3 linked regions of the Homo sapiens genome follow. The main gene of each other region encodes a partner of the protein of the gene in region 2 in a complex. Each region holds a gene or a part of one and is shown on either strand. Other genes may lie near its edges.

The links.
Region 1: LSM2 (region 2) and LSM8 share a complex: the UniProt entries of both Homo sapiens proteins name them as parts of the precatalytic spliceosome.
Region 3: LSM2 (region 2) and LSM7 share a complex: the UniProt entries of both Homo sapiens proteins name them as parts of the precatalytic spliceosome.

The regions. Positions count from the first base shown.
Region 1 is NC_000007.14:118,187,130-118,190,877, reverse strand, and holds part of LSM8 (LSM8 homolog, U6 small nuclear RNA associated), read right to left. Parts: intron 2,601-3,748; coding exon 2,473-2,600; intron 1-2,472. UniProt on the Homo sapiens protein: Plays a role in pre-mRNA splicing as component of the U4/U6-U5 tri-snRNP complex that is involved in spliceosome assembly, and as component of the precatalytic spliceosome (spliceosome B complex).
Region 2 is NC_000006.12:31,805,641-31,809,388, forward strand, and holds the start of LSM2 (U6 snRNA-associated Sm-like protein LSm2), read right to left. Parts: upstream 1,327-3,748; 5' UTR 1,118-1,326; coding exon 1,115-1,117; intron 503-1,114; coding exon 435-502; intron 1-434. UniProt on the Homo sapiens protein: Plays a role in pre-mRNA splicing as component of the U4/U6-U5 tri-snRNP complex that is involved in spliceosome assembly, and as component of the precatalytic spliceosome (spliceosome B complex).
Region 3 is NC_000019.10:2,321,985-2,325,732, forward strand, and holds part of LSM7 (U6 snRNA-associated Sm-like protein LSm7), read right to left. Parts: intron 2,213-3,748; coding exon 2,141-2,212; intron 1-2,140. UniProt on the Homo sapiens protein: Plays a role in pre-mRNA splicing as component of the U4/U6-U5 tri-snRNP complex that is involved in spliceosome assembly, and as component of the precatalytic spliceosome (spliceosome B complex).

The sequences.
Region 1 (3,748 bases), on a different chromosome or scaffold from region 2:
CAGCCTCAGCCTCCCAAAGTGCTGGGACTACAGGTGTGAGCCACTGTGCCCGGCCAAATTCTAAAGACGAATACTAGTAATAAGGGATTTGCCAAATTTTGCTTTAAAGTATATAAAGTCTTAAATCATCTAATAAATGAAAAATATGAAACTCTGGCAGAATGAATTAAGTTTTCTCAAACTAAAGGCCTCAATTCCACTCTTAAATATTCTTAAATTTTAAATGATAATATTCAGTATCATTTAAAATCCCTATGGTAAGCAGGGAAATGCTGATACATTTTTAAAAACCAGCTCTCTGGAAAAAAAGCGGGAGACTGATTTGCTGCATTTACTAATATCCATTGTGCAAACACTCCCACCACGGCCAATTTCAAGCTACTAACAAGACATCAATTAACCAGCTTGTAAAATTCCTTAAAATATAACAATATGCTTTCATGGGCCAGTAGAAGCTGGCTCTAGCACAAGACTTTTTTCACTGAAGTTCAAGAAAAAAAAATTGTTTTAAGTAGGAGAAACCTTAAAATCAATTACTATGCACAGCTCCAATATAAACAGTGTTGTTCTGATCCAGAGACCTGGGCCCTATCTGCTCTGTCTCTCTCTCATTACTTACAGCTCACCTTGTAACTCCACCTAAAAGTCATCTCTAAAATATTTTATAAACTCTTGATTTTTGATTACAGATCAAATTATTTATTCATCTAAAGGTGATGCTAACATAAACAACTTAAATGAGTAAATTATTCCTGCACTTTTTAAGTTATTCCAGGGGACAGTTAGTCCCCTAGAATTTGTTAAATGTTCTAGCTTAAAATTGCTAATGTATCTTTTGCTTCTTTCCAACTATATTTTGATTCAGTGTAGTACTCACTAGAAAACTGATTTGGCATTCTTCTAGCCTCTATAACTATACTAATACTGGCCACATGTAACTATTAAAATTAATTACAATTAAATAAAATTTAAAATTCAGTTCCTCTGTCACATCAGCCACTTTTCTTTTTTTTTTCAAGATGGAGTTTCACTCTTTTTGCCCAGGCTGGAGTGCAAAGGCGCAACCTTGGCTCACTGCAACCTCCATCTACCAGGTTCAAGAAATTCTTCTGCCTCAGCCTCCCAAGTAGCTGGGATTACAGGCATGCACCACCACACCAGGCTAATTTTTCTATTTTAAGGAGAGACGGGGTTTCACTATGCTGGCCAGGCTGGTCTTGAACTCCTGGGCTCAGGTGATCCACCCACCTTGGCCTCTCAAAGTGCTGAGATTATAGGCATGAGCCACGGCACGTGAACCACATTAGCCACTTTTCTTTTTTATTTTTTGACACGGAGTTTTGCTCTTGTTGCCCAGGCTGGAATGCAGTGCTGCGATCTCGGCTCACTGCAACTTCCACCTCCCAGGCGAATTCTCCTGACTCAGCCTCCCGAGTAGCTGGGATTACAGGCTTGCGCCACCACGCCTGGCTAATTTTTATATTTTTAGTAAAGACGCGGTTTCACCACATTGGCCAAGTTGGTCTCGAACTCCTGACCTCAAGTGATCCACCCGCCTCCACCTCCCAAAGTGCTGGGATTACATGCTTGAACCACTGTGCCCGGCCTTTTTTTTTTTGAATTGGTGTCTCAATCTGTCACCCAGGCTGGAGTGCAGTAGGGTGATCTCGGCTCACTGCAACCTCTACCTCCTGGGTTCAAGTGATTCTCCCACCTCAGCCTCCCAAGTAGCTGGAACTACAGGCGCACGCCACCAAGCCTGGCTAATTTTTGTATTTTTAGTAGAGACAGTGTTTTGCCATGTTGGCGAGGCCGGTCTTGAACTCCTGACCTGATCCACTTGCCTCAGACTCCCAAAGTGCTGGGATTACAGGCACCATGCCTGGCCAATTACTCTTGAACTTTTATATCTGTCTGTCCCAAGTAAACTGAGGCCACAGGGACATCTTAAGTGTGTCAATGATACTAAAAAATTAAAAGAAAATGAATAACGAGTAAGTACTTATTTATAAATACACCTATGTTATTGAGCATGAATTAATATTGTTCAAATCAGAGATTTCAAAACATTTTTCAAACTTTGGCCTTGGACTCTAGAAATATGTTCCTCTAAAATTCTGGGTATTTGAAAGAACGTTTTAAGAAGTCTCTCTAATGAAGTATTTAATATAAGGCAGAGCCCTTTCTGGACTCTACCCAGGCTACTTAACTAGTAGAAAAATGGGCAAATCTCAGGTAAAAGTTTAATTTGTAGAGAGACAGCTTTGGTTGAAACCTAAAGAAGTGCTGACATAAAATGTATACATATGCCTTATTTTACACAAACATAAGAAAAGGTATATTTACGAAAGAAATGAATGCAAGATTCTATTAACTATGTATGGACAATACAGTAGGGTATTTTGGGGAAAGCCTCTTCTCCATAAAGTAAGGCAGTATCATTTATAATTTTAACAGATATATTTTACTTACACGTTGTCACCTCTTACAATGTATAATCCTAGTACCACTTGTTCTACCCCCTGTGAAGAGCTGAATACTCGTTCATGGCTTTCATCCAAAATCAAATTAATGGTCTGGTCAAAACCTTTCAGTGTTCCCTGTAAAGAAAATATTCAGGAGAAAAAGAGAAATATTCTGGTTTACCTGAAAGTGTAAATTTAACCTCACAGTCATTTTAGTTGCCAGGTATTCCAATACAAGTACCTATACGACGGCAAATAAAATGCCTTTTTTATAACCAACAGTATTCGAGGGTACACAATTTACCTCTTGGTTATTTGGCTGGGGTGGGGGGACCTGCACCACACATCTCACTCATATGTAGAGTTGACAGCAGTTGCAAAGGACACCTATGTACTAATGTGACTATCTCCAAGTAAGTAGCATAAAAGCTTATGTAGACCAGCAGCTAAAGGTATAAACTAAGACAAAGGATATTTAAGGGAAAATGATAGCCAAATATACATAAATAAGGAAGAACCATACATACCAACTACAGCAATGTAATAGTATCACTATATGCTATATGCCAGCACTAGGCAGTGTGCTAAACACACTGTACACATTTTCTCAACTCATCTCTACCCTTTGATTTAGTACTATAATTAGCCCCATTTCAAAGAAGAAACTGAGGCACAGAATGGTGTGTCTTATGATCACATGGGTAGTAAGTGGCAGAGCCAGGAGATGAACCACAAAAGGCTAGCTCCTGAGCCAGACCACTAAACCATAACATTCTATACTATTATACACAAGTAAATATAATTTGCCATTTTTCAGATTCAAATCAGTCCCATAAATATACTAAAAATTTAACTAGTAGTTACATGTAACACCTAATGAGTACATACTAGTTACCAGTGTTCTGTGTGTCTCACATGTATTGTTTAATGTGTATCATATGGATTTATTGTTTAATTCTCCCAGTAAGGTAGATACAAATGTGACTATACTAATTAAAACCAGAACTTGAAGGAAATAATCAGGGAGAGTTTTATGAAAGCTTAGTATTGAATAAAAGAAGACATGGGTCTAGCATAACAGAGTAACTCACATGGTATTCAAGTTTCTGAAGAAATATCAACTAACATTGGTTTTGATGGTTAAACCTCTCAAGTTCTTAAACTGTTTTATCTTCTGAAAGTCAAAATATATAAAATGAGAATGAAATAAAAAAGAGAATGAAATAAAATGAGAATGAAATCTGTAACTTGGAAGAGAAACAAAATATGGAGTATTTATTGAA
Region 2 (3,748 bases):
GCATGAGCCACACGTCCAGCCCGTGAGCCACTGCGCCTGACCTGTATTTACTCTTTAAACTATATATTGCTTTGTATTGTTTTCCAATACACGATACAATCTCTAAGCTTATCTGTAAATTTAAGGCACAAGGCATTTATTTATTGCTAAATTTTAAAATTTTTCTTAGAGATGGGGTCTTGCTCTATTGCCTGGGCTAGAGTGCAATGGAGTAATCACTGCTCACTGCAGCCTCAAACTCCTGGGCTCAAGCTTTCCTCCTTCCTCAGCCTCCCAAAGTGCTGGGATTACAGGCTTGAGCCACTGCACCCTATCCATTTATTTCTTCTGTACATCTTCCACCTCGCCTAGCCCTGAAATATTTCTCAAATTAAAGAGGTTCCAGGGCCCTGGGCACACCCACCCCCAACAGACTTGTTGGAACAGGTACCTACCTCAGGTCATTCTTTAGTTCCACGACCACATCCTTGCCCACAAGGGACTTGAAAAAAGAATAGAAGAGCTATTGGGAGAGAGGGGGAAAACCATCATGTGGGAAGGAGCATGGTAGGGAGGAGTGTCCTTTGACAGTATTACCAAATACTGGTATTGTGAACCCCACTGCATCCCTGACAGTTCTCAAAATTTCACAGGAAAGAATAATTGGTTGACAGAGCTGAAAGGCTGGAGCCCAAATTATTCTGCACACTGCACTGAGCCCATCACTTAAAGTCCCAGAGAGACTCTGCCCTGCATACGTCGGCCTCCCCACTGTGCTCTCTCAGTCGACCACCTTTCTCGGGTACCTGCCCACTCCTTTCAATGAATTGTAGAAAATATCCCACCCGCACCCTGCCGAAGCTTGCCTGGCAGAGAAGTGCTCTGAGGTCTAACTTTTCCGTCTCCCGCTATCCTCACTGAATCTCTCTCAGGGTTGGGGTTTTTTCCCTCATCATGGAAAAAATATCCCATTTGTTCTCAGTGCCTCCTCAATGAACCTGAGAAACAGTACAGTACTAAAGATGAAGATAAAAACTCCGGACCTAACTCCAGCCTAGGGGTACAAAGGCCAGATCCCCCGCCCCAACCATGCGAGGTCCCCGAGGGCGCCCCCTTTTGACGTCACGGTACCCACCATGGTGCTGGCGCCGCGGGCAGCGGGCCGGACCGGGAAGACAGCAGGGTGCTGCGAGCAGGTCTGGGGAAACCGAAGCGCGAGCCCGCGCGTGGGGCGAGGCGGGACCGCGCAGGCGCAGCGGGAAGCGACGCAGAAAGCTCCAAGCGCTGACGGGCAAAGCGCGGCCGACTTGCGGCTGGGGAGCGCAAGCTGGGTAGAGTAGAGGGGAGGAGGAAGCCGGGAAAGGGGCGGGGTTTCCTTCATTCCGACTTCCTCCCTGGCCGGCCGGCTCCCATTGCGCAGGCGCGGACCCTAGCCTGGGCTGCCAGACGGGTGGCGGGACTCAGCGCCTGAGCTCAAAGGATTTTGTTCTTTTCCAGAATCCTGCCATCTACAGCGTGATGTGTTTGTGCCCTACACACACTTCCTATCGAGAATTGTGGGGAGTTTGTTAAGATTATGAAGTGTGCACTTTTCTATATTTGTTAAAGTAAAAACATAAAATTTAAAAAATAAAATTAAAAAATGTTTTGAATCTTAAATTCAGCTGATAAAAAGAAAAAAAGGCCGAGGGCCGTGGCTCAAGCCTTTAATCCCAGCACTCTGGGAGGCCTAGGTGGGTGGATTGTGTGAGGTCAGGAGTTCGAGACCAGTCTAGCCAACATGGTGAAACCCCATCTTCACTAAAAATACAAAAAAAATTAGGCGTGGTCGCAGGCTCCTGTAATACCAGCTACTCGGGAGGCTGAGGGAAGAGAATCGCTTGAACCTGGGAGGCGGAGGTTGCAGTGAACCGAGATCGCGCCACTGCACTGCAGCCTGGGCGACAGAGCAAGACTCCGTCTCAAAAAAAAAAAAAAAAAAAATGACCGGGAGCAGTGGCTCACACCTGTAATCCCAGCACTTTGGGCGGCCAAGGCAAGTGGATCGCCTGAGGTCAGGAGTTCGAGACCAGCCTGGTCAACATGGCGAAATTCTGTCTCTACTAAAAACCCAAAAATTAGCCGGGTGTGGTGGCACGCGCCTGTAAATCCAGGAGGCATAGGTTGCAGTGAGTGGAGATCTTGCCATTGCACTCCAGCCTGGGCAACAAGAGCAAAACTCCATCCCAAAAAACAAAAAATGTTGAGGCCTGTAAATCCCAGCATTTGGGGAGGCTGAGGCAGGAGGATCATTTGAACCCAAGAGTTACAGTGAGCTACAATCTCCCCACTGCATTCCAGCCTGGGTGACAGAGCGAGACTCTCTCTAGAAAAAAGAAAATTATAAACAAACAACGTTGAGCAGTCCCAGAGATAAGGAGGAGCTGGAGCACAAATTTTGATTTTATCAAAGGTTACCAATAAATACATTTCTCCAAAGGAGCCAACCTCAATCTCCGCATTTCTTACACACTTTTGCCAAGACTGTCCTGTAAAGGACTGTGTAAAACTAAAGAGACTGTGGCTCACAGATACAAATAACCCAGTCTAACATTTCACTGTTAAATGTTTCAAACACAAACAGACAGAAATGCAGTTACATATTATTCTAACTCATATCCCCCAGGTTTTTATAAATATGTATTAGGACACAGGTAAAAGAAAAAAATGTTTTTGAGATGGAGTCTCGCTCTATCACCAGGCTGGAGTGTGGTGCCACGATCTCAGCTCACTGCAACCTCCACGTCCCGGGTTCAAGCGATTCCTCTGCCTCACCCTCCTGAGTAGCTGGGACTACAGGCACGCATCACCGTCCTCAGCTAATTTTTGTATTTTTAGTAGAGACGGGGTTTCACCATGTTGGGCAGGATGGTCTCAATCTCTTGACCTCATGATCCGCCCGCCTCGGCCTCCCAAAGTGCTGGGATTACAGGCGTGAGCCACTGTGCCCAGCTGGTAAAAATATTTTTTCATGGACTGAGACTTCATAAAACTTGTATTTGTCATCTTGCATAGACATACTTATTTGTCAAGAGTTTGTTATAGAAATATTTTCTGGGGCTGGGCACGGTGGCTCACGCCTATAATTCCAGCACTTTGGGAGGCTGAGGTGGGTGGATCACCTGAGGTCAGGAGTTCAGAACAGCCTGGTCAACATGGTGAAATCCCGTCTCTACTAAAAACACAAACATTAGCCGGGCATGGTGGTGAGCGCCTGTAATCCCAGCTACTCATGAGGCTGAGGCAGGAGAATCGCTTGAATCTGGGAGGCAAAGTTTGCAGTGAGCCGAGATCGTGCCATTGCACTCCAGCTTGGGCGACAAGAGCGAAACTGTTTCCAAAAAAAAAAAAAAAGAAAAGAAATATTTTCTCCATGTAATGGATGTAAACAATGAACTCTGTGAGTGCATAGATGCTGAATCTCCTGGACCTTACCTATAAGTGACATCAGGACATCAAGCAGGATTTGTCCCTCCACCCCCAGTTGAGTCCTAAACTCCAAAACCAGCTTGTAACTGATTAAAAGCAGTTATAGTTTGCCATCTGTTCCATCTGTGCTAAAGGTGTCTGAGGATCAAAAATTATGTGGCTGATTGAAACAATGAGTTCATGGGCCGGGCACGGTGGCTCACGCCTGTAATCCCAGCACTTTGGGAGGCCGAGGCGGGCGGATCACGAGGTCAGGAGATCGAGACCATCCTGGCTAACACAGTGAAACCCCGTCTCTACT
Region 3 (3,748 bases), on a different chromosome or scaffold from region 2:
TCCCACGGCTGAGACCCATGGCCCCTAGAGACCAGTGGCAGCTCCACAGACAGCAGCCACAGCCCTCCCTCACTCCACAAACCATGGGAACAAGAAGGCCCAGGTGATAGCCGGCTACCCCGCGTCTCAGAGCTCACTGGGGCCCAGGCACCAGGGCCGGGAACCAGGTTATCAGATGGCCGGCCAGAATACAGGCACCCTGGGCCTCCTGGTCTCTGCAAGGTCCCTGGAGCCCTAGGGGGCCAATATTCACCCTATAACAAAGAGGCTGGGGGCCGGGCGCGGTGGCTCACGCCTGTAATCCCAGCACTTTGGGAGGCCAAGGCAGGCGGATCACGAGGTCAGGAGATCGAGACCATCCTGGCTAACTTGGTGAAACCCCGTCTCTACTAAAAAATACAAAAAAATTAGCCGGGCGTGGTGGCAGGCACTTGGAGTCCCAGCTACTCGGGAGGCTGAGGCAGGAGAATGGTGTGAACCCAGGAGGCGGAGCTTGCAGTGAGCCGAGATCGCGCCACTGCACTCCAGCCTGGGTGACAGAGCGAGATTCCATCTCAAAAAATAAAAAAATAAAGAGGCTGTTCATGTGGGGTGGGGACCATGTGGGCTGGCACCCCAGGGAAGTGCCAGCAAGCCCAAGACAAGCTCTCAAGAGGCTGAAGGCGATTAAAACTCCTCACTACTGTGGTCCTGCAGTGGTGGGGGCATGGGAGAACCATGGGGCCCAGGTTTTTAAACTTTTTTTCAGACACCAGGTCTTGCTCTGTTGCTCAGGTTGGAGTGCAGCAGTGCAATCACAGCTCACAGCCTCAACCTCCTGGGCTCAAACAATCCTCCTGCCTTAGCCTCCTGAGTAGCTGGGGCCACAGGCACATGTACCGCCATGCCTGGCTAATTACATTTTTTTTTTTTTTGTAGAGACAGGGTCTCACTATGTTGCCCAGGCTGGTCTCAAATTCCTGGGCTCGAGTGATCCTCCTGTCTTGGCCTCCCAAAGTGCTGGGATTACAGGCATGAGCCACCATGGCCAGCTACAAGAATAAATCTTGTCTCAGTATCAATGGATCCAAGGGGCAAGACCCTCTCTCTCCTAAGTCCTGACATTCCCCCAGTGCCCGGGCCGGGATGGGGACTTGCCAGCTGGGGACTTGCCGCAGGAGCTTCTGGGGGAGAGTCTGAGGACTTGGCGGCCTCACTGGGGAGGGGAGCGAGCGGGGGCAGGGAAATGAGGGAGGGTCCTCTGGGGAGGAGACAGGGACCCTGCGTTCATAGCGGGAATTAACAAGGGCAGAAGAGGAAAGGCGCCCGAGAGGAGCCCCACGGCACGCTCACTACCCCACAGCAAGGCTGCTCTCCGCTGGGCGCCACAGCTCACGCCTGGAACCCCAGCACTGTGGGAGGCTGAAGCAGGAGGATGGCTTGAGCCCAGGAGTTCGAGACCAGCCCGGGCAACACAGTGAGACCTCAGCTTATCTCTTTTTTTTGAGACGGAGTCTCACTCTGTTACTCAGGCTGGAGTGCAGTTGCACCATCTCGGCTCACTGCAACCTCCGCCTCCCAGGTTCAAGCGATTCTCCTGCGTCAGCCTCCCGAGCAGCTGGGATTACAGGCATGCGCCACCACACCCAGCAATTTTTTTGCATTTTTAGCGGAGACGGGGTTTCACCATGTTGGTCAGGCTGGTCTCAAACTCCTGACCTCAAGAGATCCTCCTGCCTTGGCCTCCCAAAGCGCTGGGATTATAGGTGTGAGCCATTGTGCCTGGCCTCTCACGTCACCAATTTAACAAAAATTAAAATAATAAAACATTTAAAAAGGTTGTCCTCTAACTGTGCCGGGCGCCCCGTCAGTGTGTAGAGACCAGTGGGTGAGCTGGCAGCTCCCGTCTCTCCAGGCCCCACAACAATGGGGTTTCCTGCTTTGTGAGGACGTCTAGGACCAGTGAGCGCTCAAGCCCGTCCATCGGCCGCCACGAGGCTTCACGTTGGTAACTCAGAGGTTTTGTGGGTTTGAGAGAAGAAGAGCCAGCAGGGAGCCCCACGGCTGCCCCCCTCGTCCCACTGCCCCCCTCGTCCCGCTGCCCCCCTCACCCCACTATCCCCCTCGTCCCGCTGCCTGCCTCGGCCGCCACCCCACTCACCTCGCATGTACTCAATGGTGCCGTCCAGCACAAGGTTGAGGAGTGGGTCGAAGCCCTTCAGGATTCCACTGGCTTGGAGAAATCACCGGGGGAGAGAAAAGAGAAGGCATGAGATCCGTCCTGGGCGCAGGGCCCGCCCCAGCATGGCCCAGGTATGGGGCTAACTGCTCCAGGGATGGAGGACTGAGGGTAGGAGAGGGCTCCCGGGAGTGGCCGATGACAGCCGCCTCCAGAGTGATCTCCACCACAGGCAGCAGACCACGTCTGCGGGGGGCCAGATGGCAAACACTTCTGGCCGTGTGGGCCACAGGGTGCCGGTCACAGCTGCTGGCTCGGGCTGCCTGGGTGGAGGCAGCTTCGGTAATGAGTCCATGTGTGGCTGAACTGCGGCCGGTCAGCTCTACTCACAGGCACTGAACTGTGAATTTCATGTAATTTCCACATCGTGAGACAGTCTTGTTTTGATCCCTTTCTAGCTATTTAAAAGTCATAAAAACAATTCTCAGCTCAAAAGCAGCAGCAAAACAGGCGGCGGCACGTGTACGCGGTGGGACCACCAGCCAGGAAGAGGAGCGAGGCTGGCGCAGGCCACAGCGCGGATGCGCCTGAGGACGCACCTGAGGACGTCACGCTCAGTGAGAGACGCCAGACACAGAAGGCTGCGCACCGTGAGATCCCATTTCTATGAAATGTCCAGGACAGGCCAATCCACAAAGACAGGGAAGGGATGCGTGGGTGCCAGGGCCAGGGATGGGACAGGCAGTGATGGCTGATGGGGACAGGGCTTCCTGTAGGGGAGACAGAGTGCTCCGCTCTGACAGCGGTGATGACTGCGCTGCCTGACCTGTGCTGAGTCCCTCAGTGAGTTCACGGAATACAAAAGAACAAATCCCAGCCCTGCTGCTTAGGGCTTGCGGGGAGCAGGCAACAGAGATGCTCTGAGACCCAGGTGCAAAGGCTTCGGGGGCTGAGACGGTCTCTGTGGCTTCTCTCTCCACGCTGCCTGCCCCACCCCTCAAGCTTCGCCGCCTTGGGCCACAACTTGCCAACTTAGGTTAGGGCTCTCTGACCCGGTGGTGATCTCTGCCATCTGATCCTGCTCCGCAGTGTCTGGTGACACTGAGAAGGGTGAAGGGGGAGCTGTGTGTCCCCAGCAGAGGCCAGCCCACCCTCTCTGCCTGGGACTCCCCTCCACTGCCCTGCAGGCTCCTGCAGCCGAGGCCCAGCAGCAGCTCCACCTCTGCGCTCACTGAGGGGCGTCCCGCAGCCACCCCCTCCCTGCTCTCCTTCTTACCCCTGTCATCTTTCAGGTGCTTCCTCCAGACACCAACCCACAGCCCTTACGGTGCTGCCCTCTGCACGCCCACGCCAATCTCAGGAAGCAGGCACCACCAATCTCGGGAAGCAGGCACCACCAATCTCGGGAAGCAGGCACCCCGGGCATTATTCTGCCTGCCTGTCTCCTCCCAAGGCAGGGCCGAGAGCCCGTCCACGGCTGCTCCACACACACCGAGGGCCGCCCTGTGCGGTGGTGCGGGGGAGGGTCTGCAAACTACGACCCCCAGGTGAACCTGCCCGCCGCTCCTCTCTGTAAGTCAGAGTCTCGCT